Homo sapiens: one gene and its partners. The protein of the gene in region 3 purifies or fractionates together with the protein of the main gene of each other region. This does not show direct contact. Each region holds a gene or a part of one and is shown on either strand. Other genes may lie near its edges. The genes, in order: PSMA8, NPAS1 and NHSL2.

What was found.
Region 1: the proteins of NHSL2 (region 3) and PSMA8 purify together in Homo sapiens (affinity purification with mass spectrometry; one large-scale study listed by BioGRID and IntAct). This does not show direct contact.
Region 2: the proteins of NHSL2 (region 3) and NPAS1 purify together in Homo sapiens (affinity purification with mass spectrometry; one large-scale study listed by BioGRID and IntAct). This does not show direct contact.

The regions. Positions count from the first base shown.
Region 1 is NC_000018.10:26,136,730-26,140,377, forward strand, and holds part of PSMA8 (proteasome subunit alpha-type 8), read left to right. Parts: intron 1-3,315; exon of another isoform or gene 3,316-3,356; coding exon of another isoform or gene 3,357-3,380; intron 3,381-3,648. UniProt on the Homo sapiens protein: Component of the spermatoproteasome, a proteasome specifically found in testis that promotes acetylation-dependent degradation of histones, thereby participating actively to the exchange of histones during spermatogenesis.
Region 2 is NC_000019.10:47,018,302-47,022,049, reverse strand, and holds the start of NPAS1 (neuronal PAS domain-containing protein 1), read right to left. Parts: upstream 2,214-3,748; 5' UTR 2,053-2,213; intron 1,045-2,052; 5' UTR 1,003-1,044; coding exon 881-1,002; intron 439-880; coding exon 203-438; intron 1-202. UniProt on the Homo sapiens protein: May control regulatory pathways relevant to schizophrenia and to psychotic illness. May play a role in late central nervous system development by modulating EPO expression in response to cellular oxygen level.
Region 3 is NC_000023.11:72,137,780-72,141,427, reverse strand, and holds part of NHSL2 (NHS-like protein 2), read right to left. Parts: intron 2,988-3,648; coding exon 657-2,987; coding exon of another isoform or gene 652-656; exon of another isoform or gene 66-651; intron 1-65.

The DNA of each region.
Region 1 (3,648 bases), on a different chromosome or scaffold from region 3:
ACCAACTGGATAGTAAGATCTCTGAGGATCTAGATGGTATAATTCATTTTTCTATTTCTACTGCACAATATACAGTAGAGGGGCTAGGAAGGCAGTAACTAACATTTAAGAAATACTTTAACCAGGCATTTTGTGTATATTATCTAACATTAGGGACAGTGTTTAATCCCCTTTTATTATGTGTGAAACTGTGATTCAGAAGCATTTATAGCTTGCTGAAAGTACCCAGCTGGAGAGTGATGGAACCCATATTTATAATTATTTTTTTCTAGTTCTAAAGCCCCTGCTCCTTGCATTGTAGCATGAAATTTGTTCAATAAATGTTTGTATATTAATTAGCTTCCATTATCATGAATGTAGAAATCAGATATGTATCACTTAAGGCAATTAACTTCACTAAGCTTCAGTTTCTGTAATAGTAAAAGAGGCATCAAAATAGCACTTGTGGCTGGGCGTGGTGGCTGATGCCTGTAATGCTAGCACTTTGGGAGGCTGAGGTGAGTGGATCACTGGAGGTCAGGAGTTTGAGACCAGCCTGGCCAACATGGTGATGCCCCATCTCTACTAAAAATACAAAAAATTAGCTGAGCATGGTGGTGTGTGCCTGTATTCCCAGCTACTTGGGAGACTGAGGCAGGAGAATTGCTTGAACCGAGGAAGCAGAGGTTGCATGAGCTGAGATTGCACCAGTGTACTCCAGCCTGAGTGACAGAGTGAGAATCTGTCTCAAAAAAAAATTGCACTTGCTTCAGAGAGTTGATGTGAAAGTTGAATGAGGTAATAATGCATGTGAAGCATCTTAAACAGAATCTAGTTCACAGAAAGTACTTAACAAATTGTAGTTATTATTTACTATTCTTTGTTTTCTCTTTTTTTTAAATTTTGTCTGTGGTGCTTCTCACACATTCATTTATTATTTCAAGACATTTTTGTTGAATACTTACATATGCTAAACATGATGCTAGGTCACATACAAGATAGATAGCATCACATACAAAATAGATTCGATCCCTGTCCTTAGAGATCCTACTATCTATCAGGAAAGTTAGATAATTACATAAATAGTCCTAAGAAAACCCGAATGAGTATTAGAGTATGAGGCACTATAGGAACCCCAGGTGTTGGGGAGGTCCCTCTGAAGAAATAATACTTAAGTGGACATCTGAAAGATGAGGGGCTGTCAAGTGAAGAAGTGGAAGGGGAAAGAGTGAAGAGTATTTTTGACAAAGGAAATAGCTTGTGGGAAGGCAAGTAGAAAAGGACAGCTATGTTCTGTCAACTGAAAGGCATTCAGAATTGTTGAAGCAATGGAAAAATAGAAATAGATGAAGCTAGAAACTGGTGCCAGATCATGGAATGCCATTAAACCATGTAAGTGAGGATATACTGAATGAGAGACCTTGAAGTGTTTTGATGTGGCTACTGTCAGTCTCCAGATTATTGCTCTTCTGTCATTCTATTAACAGACTACATTTGTCCAACAACAGAGATACTCACATGACCTAAGTAGAATCATTCATAATTTCTATCTTCCTGGCCACAGTGATGAGCATGTCACTCAAATCTAGCCAATGATAAGTTCACCCTTAGCAACTCTTCTGACTAGAGACAGAGGTAGCTTTTATTCTCTGGGAGAACTGTTGGGATGTGGGTCCAAGGTTCCTGGTGGCCATGTTTTTACTGTACAGAGAAAGCCTTTCCACATTAGGAAAGTGAAAAGCCAATATGCAAAGAGTACATATTAAAGTCCCTAGATCCTTTTGTCTCATGTCTAGCTCTGTGCTGTGTTGATTTGCTTAGTGACAGATGGTCCCTTTATAAGCTTTAAGTAAAGGAATGCCACATTCAGACTTTATTTTCTTCTTCTTCTTTTTTGGTCTTCATTTTATTTTCCAAATATTTCTCAGGCTACCTATGGTCAGTGAATTGGATGAAATCAAGACTAGAAACAGGGAGACCAGTTAGTATTCTGTGGAAATAGTCTAGATGAAAGATGATAACTAGCTTTTACTAGACTTGGGGGGAAAGTAAAAATAAGGTGGATTCCAGAAAAACATTAAGCAGTATACTTGTTACAATTTGATGGTTATATGGATGGTGTTGACAGAGGTATAGAAGAAGGAGGAATAAAAGTTGGTGTCCCTGTTTCTGGATGTGCCTGCTAAGTAAATGGTACTGCCATTTACTTAGAGAATGTAAGCACTAAGTTTTGGGGGAAGATAACTGTTTTGGACTTGCTGAGGTTGAGATGCTTATGGAAACTGTAGCAGACAGACTTTAAAATGGCCTCCAGTGATCCCCACCTTGTGGTGGTCATGCCCTTGTATAACCTTCCTCCCTTGGATGTGGGCTGAACTTAGTGACTTGCTTTTAAGGAATGGAATAGGTGAAAATGACGAATGTCACATCAGGGATTAGGTTGCAAAGAAATGGTGACTTCATTTTATTCATCCTTACTCGCTGTTTTGCTTGCTTACTCTGGTGAAACCCAGCTGCCGTGTTGAGTTGCCCTCTGCAGGGCCCAATGAGGCAAGGAACTGAGGGAAACATTTGTTCAAAATCTAGTAGGGAACTGAGATCCTTAGTCCAACAACCCAGGGGAACTGAATCTTGCCAACAACAATGCGAGTGAGCTTGGAAATGGATCCTTCCCCAGTTGAGCCTAGAGATGCATGCAGCACTGGTAGACAACTTGATTGCAGCCTTATGAGAGACCCTGAGCCAGAGGAATTAGCTAAACTGTGTCCCGATTCCTGAACAGAGACTGTGAGGCAGCTGAAAAGTACATGTTTGAAATTTAAGAGATTGATTTTGGCTGGAAATAATAATTTTGAAGTGCATTGTTTCTCTCCCCTGTTAAAAACCTATATTGAAGGTCAAGTAAATGCATACTCTTGAGTACCCTTCTGTGTTCAATAAGACTAAATATAGACTATAGACTAAGCCGAGGATAGTCTACAACTGAACCTTGAGGAACCTTAATGACCTTTGTAATTACCTTGACTAAACTCTGAGAGAAGAGGGATAGAAACCAGGTTGTTGTGGGCTGAGGGATGATGACAATATTTGACTTGAAGGGCTTGAAAGAAAAAAGGTGGGATTAAAGTGGAATGGTCTTAAAATTAAGATAAAAGAGACTAACATAGGTTTCTGTCTGTTCGTTGAACTTCTCAATTTGTTCGCATAGTGTTTTCCTGATCTCGCTTGTTTATCTCTGTACTCTTGTAGCTTACTGAGCTTTTAAAAGATTGTTACTTTTTAATTCTTTGTCAAGAAATTCATAGATCTCCATACTTTATTTTCTTCCTTTGGTAGTATCATGTTTCTCTGATTGTTCACGATTCTTGTGGCCTGGCATGGATGTCTGCACATTTGAAAAAGTAAGTACCTCTTCAGATTAGCTTCAGCAGGAAAAGTTCTTCACCAGTTAGCCCATCCAGAGATTTGGGGTGGGCCTGCCACTAGAGTCCTTTGGCAGGCTGGCGTGATGCCTAGGTCAGCAGGCAGGCTGGCTTGGCACCACAGGTGCCAGCCTTGTACCAGGGCTCACTGGGGTGGGCCTGGAACCTGAGTCCACAGGAGCAGACCTGGAGCTTGGATCCATGGGGTCCATGGAAAAGTCAGATACCCACGTTACTCTCCTTACCA
Region 2 (3,748 bases), on a different chromosome or scaffold from region 3:
ATCTTCCCAACCTCTTGCGCCCATTTGACAGTTTAATAAACTGAGGCTTGGAGAGCAGAAGCCACCTGATAGGGACACGCAAAGGTCCTGGCTGACTCCAGAGACAAGCATCTGGGCGAGGGCAGGCCCGCAGCCCGGATCTGGGCTGCAGTGACTCCGCCTGGAGGGCCCCGGGACCCTCGCCCCGCGCATGAGCACTCACCGAGGCCAGCTGGCGGCCCCGCGGCTCTCAGCCCCCAGGGCGGCGCCCCCAGCGCGGCGAACCGGCGCAGGCGGAGGTAGGTGACGCTGAGGCGCACGATGGAAGCCTTGTCCAGCTGGCTGGAGATGGCGCCGGGCAGCGGGAGAAGCTTGGCCAGCTCGAAGAACTCCAGGTTCTCCTTCCCGCGCCGCGAGCGCGCCGCGTTCCGGGACTTCTCCTTGCGCTGCGCCTGCAGGCTGGGCGGGCGGCGCGGAGGAGGTGTCGGCGGGGCCCCGGGGCTCAGGGGCTTGGGAACTGGGGGCGAGCCCCGCCTCCCGGGGCCTTGGGAACGGGACGGGACGTTGGGAGTGGATTCCACATCTCTGGAGGTGGGAGCAGACCGGAGTGTGGATTTTACACTCCGACCCAGGGACAGAACCTCGAGTGTCAATTCTGGTGGGAAGGAGGAGGAAGGGCGAGAGATTAAAGATGTTGGGCGTGAATTCTGAGGACCGGGACTAGAAGCAGAACGCAGGGGACCGGGCTCAGGACGGTAGTTAACTCAAGGTAAGACCTTCTAGCCCTAAGGGGCGGGTCAGGGAGCTGGGTGTGAACTGCCCCTTGGCACGGGGACAGAACATCGGGTGTGAATTGGACCCGGGGGGGGGCCCGCGGCCAGGGGGGCGGGGCTTTGCTCACCACGGTCCGGACGGCGCCTTGACCATCAGCCCGGGTAGAAAGTCCCAGGGGACGCTGGCGCCGCGGCCTCCCACGCATTTGACCTCGCTTCCGCCGCCACTGCCGGGATAGGGGGCCGCCATCTCCGGGGGGCTCGCTCAGGCGGGCTCCGAGCCCCGAGTCTCCTGCAGCGGGAGGGGGCCAGGGGCAACGCTTAGTGCCCTCGGGAGACCTTCTAGGGAAACTGAGATCCGTGCAGGGCTCAGGGTCCCAGCAAGGAGCTGGGGGGGGGGGGGCCTGGATGATGCCTCAGTTTCCCCTACCTGGAGGCCTCAGCTCCCACCCTAGCCGGCCCGGGGCTGGCGCTCCGGGTGAGGACGTGCCCCGCCGCCGCCTCCCCCGCGCCGCCCGCCAGCGCGCCCGCCTCACGCCCGCGCCGGGCCGGCTCCCGCATACCAATGGGCGCACGCGGCGCGCATACGGATCGAACCGGCCCGCGCGCTGCGTGCCAAGCATGCCCAAGCCGGGCGGGGGGCGGGCGCCTCCCGGGCCAGGCACGCACGCCCCAGCCCCCGGAGCCCTCTGCCCCGAGGACCCGCCCCCCAAGCCCATCCCCGGTGTCTGACTCCCCGGATCTGCACCCTGTTTTCCCGGCTGGGCTAAGGAGGCAGGGGGCAGAGGGCAGGGACCCCCATCCTGTGTCCTGCCCAGGGATCCCCCCAGCCTCTCGGGATGGCGCCACGTGTTCGGACCGCCACATCCCCACGACCACAACTTCCTCCCTGAAGACCCCGGCGCGCGAGCCCCAGCCCCGGACGCAGCCGCCGCAGCCTCTGCCCCAGGACGCCCCCAGGATTGACCCGACACTCGGGGCCCAGGTGTCCTGGTCTCCTGATCCCCTAACGTTTTCAGTTAGGTCTTCATTCCTCCAGGACCAGGCGTTCAGAACACCCCCTAACCCCAGGAACCAGGCCGCCCCCAAACCTCCCAGCCAGGTGTCCAGATGCCCCAGACCCCCGTGTCCAGGTCTCCCAACCCCAGATTTCTCCAGGACTCAAACATCCGTGCGCCCCTTCCCCCAGGCTCGGGATACCCTCGTCCCACCCCCTATCCCCCAGGACACTGGAGTTCCAGCCCCCCATTCCTCTGGGACCCAGAAGTCCCCCTCCTGCCAGCCCGCAAGCTTCCCCTACCCGCAGGACCGCCAGTCCGATTACTTGGCCGCAGAGCAGGCTCCGGGCGCGGCGTGGGGCCGGCCGGGCGGCGCGGAGGGGCAGCTCCATAGACCCCGGGGCGCGCGGGGCGCAGCGGGACGCGCGGGCTGTGGCGCCCAGCTCTCGGCGCCCACCTCGGCCTCGCAGACTTGGAGACGCGCGACCAGCGCTGCGGGCGGGGGCGGGGTCTGCCGGAGCCCCGCCCGCCGCGTCTCCGCCCCCGGACCCGCCCTGCTCGCCTTTCCCTGGTAGGGGGCCAAGCTACCCTGGGGTCCGAGTTCCCTTGCCCCACGGTAACGTCGGGGGTCAGAATGTAGCACCTCGGATCGGAGCTACCCCACTCCAAAAGGGGAACAGCGGAGTCCGGGCACTGTCTACACCCCTTCAGGAGGCAGTTAGTGCCCCAGCAGCCCCTCGGGACAAGACAGGTACCCTGCAGCCGAGCCCCATGTACGAGTGAAGACTCACGTCAGTGCTTCCTCCAGGGACACAAATCCAGAATTCGAGACCCTCCCTTTCCGGGAGAGAACTCCTGAGTGTCAGCACACTCTCCCCCCACAGGGCTGGGACTTCGCATCCAAACCCAACCCGCCTTAAAAGGGGGACATACACCTCCCTCGTCAGGGACCAGGATCCAGCTCTCTAAGGAGCTCCAGAGACCAGGATCCTGGCGTCTTATCTCCATCCCCCGCCGCAGGGACGGGAACCCTTACATCCAAGCTCCCCATTAGATCATAAATGGGAACTCAGGGGTTGTAGTACCTCGCACAGAGGACGGGAACCCAGGCGTCCAAGCCAGGCCTTCCCCAGTCTGATAGGAGGTCCTACAGTTCCCCTAGCTCCTTCTCTCCATGCAGCCCCCACTTCCCGTTCTCAGGGTCCTCCCTGGCATGGGGGTCTCCAGGCACTTAAAAGCCTCTACATGACCTTAACATGGGGAAAGAAAATGGAGCTGGGGCCGGGCGCGGTGGCTTACACCTATAATCCCAGCACCTTGGGAGGCCAGGGCGGTTGGATCACCCGAGGTCAGGAGTTCAAGGCCAGCCTGGCCAACATAGTGAAACCCTGTCTCTACTAAAAATACAAAAATTAGCCGGGTGTGGTGGTGGGCGCCTGTAATCCCAGCTACTCGGGAGGCTGAGGCAGGAAAATCCCTTGAACCTGGGAGGCGGAGGTTGCAGTGAGCCGAGATCCCGCCACTGCGCTCCAGCCCGGGTCAGAGAAGGAGAGTCCATTTCGAAAGAAAAGAAAAGAAAAAGAAAATGGAGCAGGGAGTCTTAGAAGAGGCATACAGTCAGGGGCTTGCAGGGAGCACGCGCTGGCCTTTGGTTGGGCAGATGGGGAAACTGAGGCACACACAAACACCCGTGTGCATTTGCTCACAACACACAAACTCATTCATGATCCTCATAGTTAACACTTAAGGGAGTGCTTGTTTTTTGCTAATACTTTATTTTATAGCAAGATTCTGAGATGGGCTCTGTTACTAGATGCATTTTACAACTAGGGAAACCGAGACATGGGGAAGTGATATAGCCTGGTGATAGTGGCCTCTCAGACAACAGATCCTTATTTATCCCCAGAGAGACTTGCTAGAGTTTCAGGGCAAGGAATCAAGCTCAGATCATGGGCTCCTGTCTCCTGACAGCACTTCCTGGCTGTGCAGCCTGGGCAG
Region 3 (3,648 bases):
AATGGTCAAGATGGTAAATGTTATGGGTACTTTACCACAATTAAAACAAAAAGAGACAGAAAAAGAAAGGATGAGAAGCATTATGTATTATGTTTATGGTTCCAGGAAGAGCCAAAGAACTCAAACCACCCAAGAAAGTGAGCTCCCTTTCCTCCGGAAGGCACAAAAAGAGGCTGCTGGTGGCAACATATTCCGTTGTTTCAGATGGCTCCGAGCCTGCCATGGCACTTGAACTCAGTCTGGTGGGGTACTGGGTCCCATGTAGGGAACTAAATTCACTGCAGCCAATGAAAAGTACTGTACAGTGAGGTGGAGTAGTTCCCAAGACAGGATGCATGCTTGGCTAGGGATGTGGGATGCTGAAGTCCTAGGGTGCTAGAACCTAGTTTGATTTCATTATCTCAGCACTAGAGATTTAGAGGGGAGAGTGGCCTAAACTGGGCCTTGGAGATCTGCCTCGGGCTAGTCTTGATCTCAAGGGCAGTAAGGCCAGCCCGTGGTTCCTATTTAGAGTAACTCAAACCCTCAAAGGGTGCCCGCTACTGACTTGGGATCAGGATAATTATTCTGGGGCATCTGCTTCCATCTCTGGCACTCCATTCTCACCCTCATCTCTCCTGTGACTGAAGGAAAAAGCCAGCAGACAGTTTACTAACCCAGAGGGCTTGCCTCCCTTTCACTGTCAGCCTGAGGAGTTGAAGTCACCCTTTGACCAAGTGATTGCAGGTCATCGCCGGTGGCGGGACACTTGGTGTCTTCCTCCAGGGTGATGATGGGGCTGAGAGGCAGCCTTGGTTCTGCCACATAGGCCTCCATTTGAGCTGTGGGAGAAGTGAGAGGCAGGTACAGCACGCTGGGTTTTTTTGGTACGGGAGGTGGAATCTTGCCTTTCTTTTTCTCAGCTTCTTCCTGGCTCTGGAGGCTAATTCTTTCAGGCAGAACCCTCACCTTGGGGCCCTCGTCCTCTACACTTCCCTGGGGAGGCTGCTGTGTTCCTGAGAAGAAAGCATCAGAGGAACTGGCAAAAGGCGTGAAAACAAGAGATGAGGGTGCTGTTGACTCCCCTGGGCTTCTGCCATCTGGGAAGCTGGAGGGCTTTGGTTTCCGCACTACCGTGTAGCTGTCTTGAGGGAGTGGTCTCGCATGTTGAATTGAGCTCCTGGGGGGCATAGCCAAGGTTGGTGAAGTTAGTGCATACTCCTCAGGAACAGATGGTGGCTTGTGGACCAAGCTTGGAGGCCTCCGGGCCACCGGAGGCTTCTCAGCTACGGGAGGTTTTGTCTTTCTCTCTGGCAAGGTGAAGACTTCTTCTGCTCTGGGTTCCTCGGCATACTCAGGGCTCTCAATATCATCTTCCGGCTCAGACTTGCTGACCGACCTCAGGCGAACAGAACGTAGGTCGGACTGAGTAACCATAGGCATGATTGGCTGGTTGGGATTAGTTTTCTGGGCCAGCTTGACGCCAAAATTTGTCTCTGAGTGGTGCCGACTCACCTTAGTTTTGCTTCGGATGGAGATACTCATCCCAGACAGATCCAGGTTGGGTGAAGAGGTCAGTGGTAGGTCAAATGATAGCCGTGACTTGGGAAATTTCTCCATTGGTGACGTCGGGGGTAGTGATGACTTCCTCTCAGGTACCACTGGACGTACCCGGACACTGCTGCTTGGAGGGGGTAAGTGGCCCAGGGTCAGGGACATGGAAACAGTGGGTGTTGGTGTTTCCGACTGGCTGGAGTAGCCACTGGAGGGTGACATCAGTCCAGGGGGCCTTCCCGGGGATGATATCTCCCTGGCCTCCACTTCAATGGAGAGTTGGGAAGGTGTAGTGGCTCTGGAGGTGGAAGGTGAGGCAAGAGACTCTGAGCTGCCCTGAACTTGGGTGCACTCAATGACTGTGGTGCCAGTGGCAGTGCTGGAGCTGGACAGGGATTGGTAGGTGTCACCAGACTTCCAGTCAGTAAGATACCAGTGGTGGGAGAATTGTGTACTTTCTGGATCTTTGTGGTTTGGAATAGCTGGGTGACCCTGAGCATCTGGGTGGGACGAGTGATGTCCTTGATGTTCCAAGGAGAGGCAAAGGCTCTTGGGCCTCTGGTCCTTGGGTAGTGCTGACCCACCTTCAGGCAAGAGGCCTGGCTCATCTTTGACCAGTGAGACACTGCGTGTGGGTGGGGAAGGCTTCTTTTTGGCCTTCCTAAGTGAGATACTCTTGGACCTCTGCCTTCTGTGCTGGGCCTCTTGCTGGGCACTAAGGGAGGCAATGTTGTCAGCACTGTTACTGCCCTCAGAGCTCGTACTGGCAAAAGGCAGGGCACAGGCCTCATTGGCCTTCTGCTCCTCATCATAGTCCACATCTGTGGTGCCTGAGTCTGTGGGCACAGACAGTGACCGCTCCCGGAATCTGCTGGCCCCACCGGGGCCTGTCTCCAGCCTCGAGGTCCCACTGGTCAGAAGGCCAATCTTGGAGGGTCTTTCGGGCATGTGCCTTTGCTGAATAAGGCGCTCAGGGTAGCCAGCTGACCCACTGCATCCTGCTGGGTTATCACGAGCGACAAGGAGGGTAGCAGCCTCCTTAGGAACCAGAGGTGGGACTTTGTTTAGAGAGACCCAAGAATTCCCACAGGAAGGATTTTTCCCATTTTCATTGACTTGATTGCTCTGGCTGGTGGCACTTGGAGTCATGTAGGTAAAAGCATCTCCCTTCCAGGAAGTGGAGAAGGTTGATTCTGTAGGTCCATTGCAAGAACTGGGGACACTGTACACCATTCCCATGCTCTCCATGCCAGGAGGGTTTGGGCCACTCCGTGCCTGGTGAGGTTCGTCCGGCTCACTGGAAGGAGTTCTCAGTACTGGCGAGGTGAGACTTGGGAACCGAGCATCCTGACCAACTGCAACTCTTCCATGAACCCCTTCTGGAACTGAGTGACTGGGCCTGATGTCGGAGGTGGTAGAGTGGGCCACACTGCCTGCTGGGCTGTTGCTGTGACCTGGAGGAAATAAACACAGGACATGAGTGCTACAGCAAGGGATCTCCCACCAGCTGTTTTGAGACAGGAGCACCAACTTTTTGCCAAGAAGCATTTGCCAACAGCTTGGTCAGAATTCCTTGGTTCTTCCCTTCCATGGATGAAGATGCTGGGGAAATTGGGTCCTTGCCCATCACCCCACAGTGAGACATACGGTGCCCTTGAATGGTCCAGATGGCTGCCAAATACTTTCCAGCTTTGATTATTCCTCTTAGAGCTGAAGTGTCACGTGGGATTACCTTGCATTTTCCCCATACTTTCACCCCAGGCTCATGAAACCATCACAGACCTCAGCATTCATCCATCTAGAGATGAGAGTAGAGGCTTCCGAACTAAGGACGGCATGGTGTGACGTTTGGCTCCAGCAATGACTCTGGAGCATGCCCAAGATGCAAAGCTAAGAGTCTGGTTGCATTGTTCGCACCCATCACTTTTAGGCTTTGCAACATAAGAGGCTGAGGATAATCTACGGATGTGAGGAAACCGTTTGGATGTTCCAAATCCCCAAAGGTTTTCTCATACACACAAACAATTAATACTGTCATGTCATTATTATTATTATTATAACTACTACTGCTATGAGAATTTGTAACAATAGCCACCATTTATTGGACACTGACTA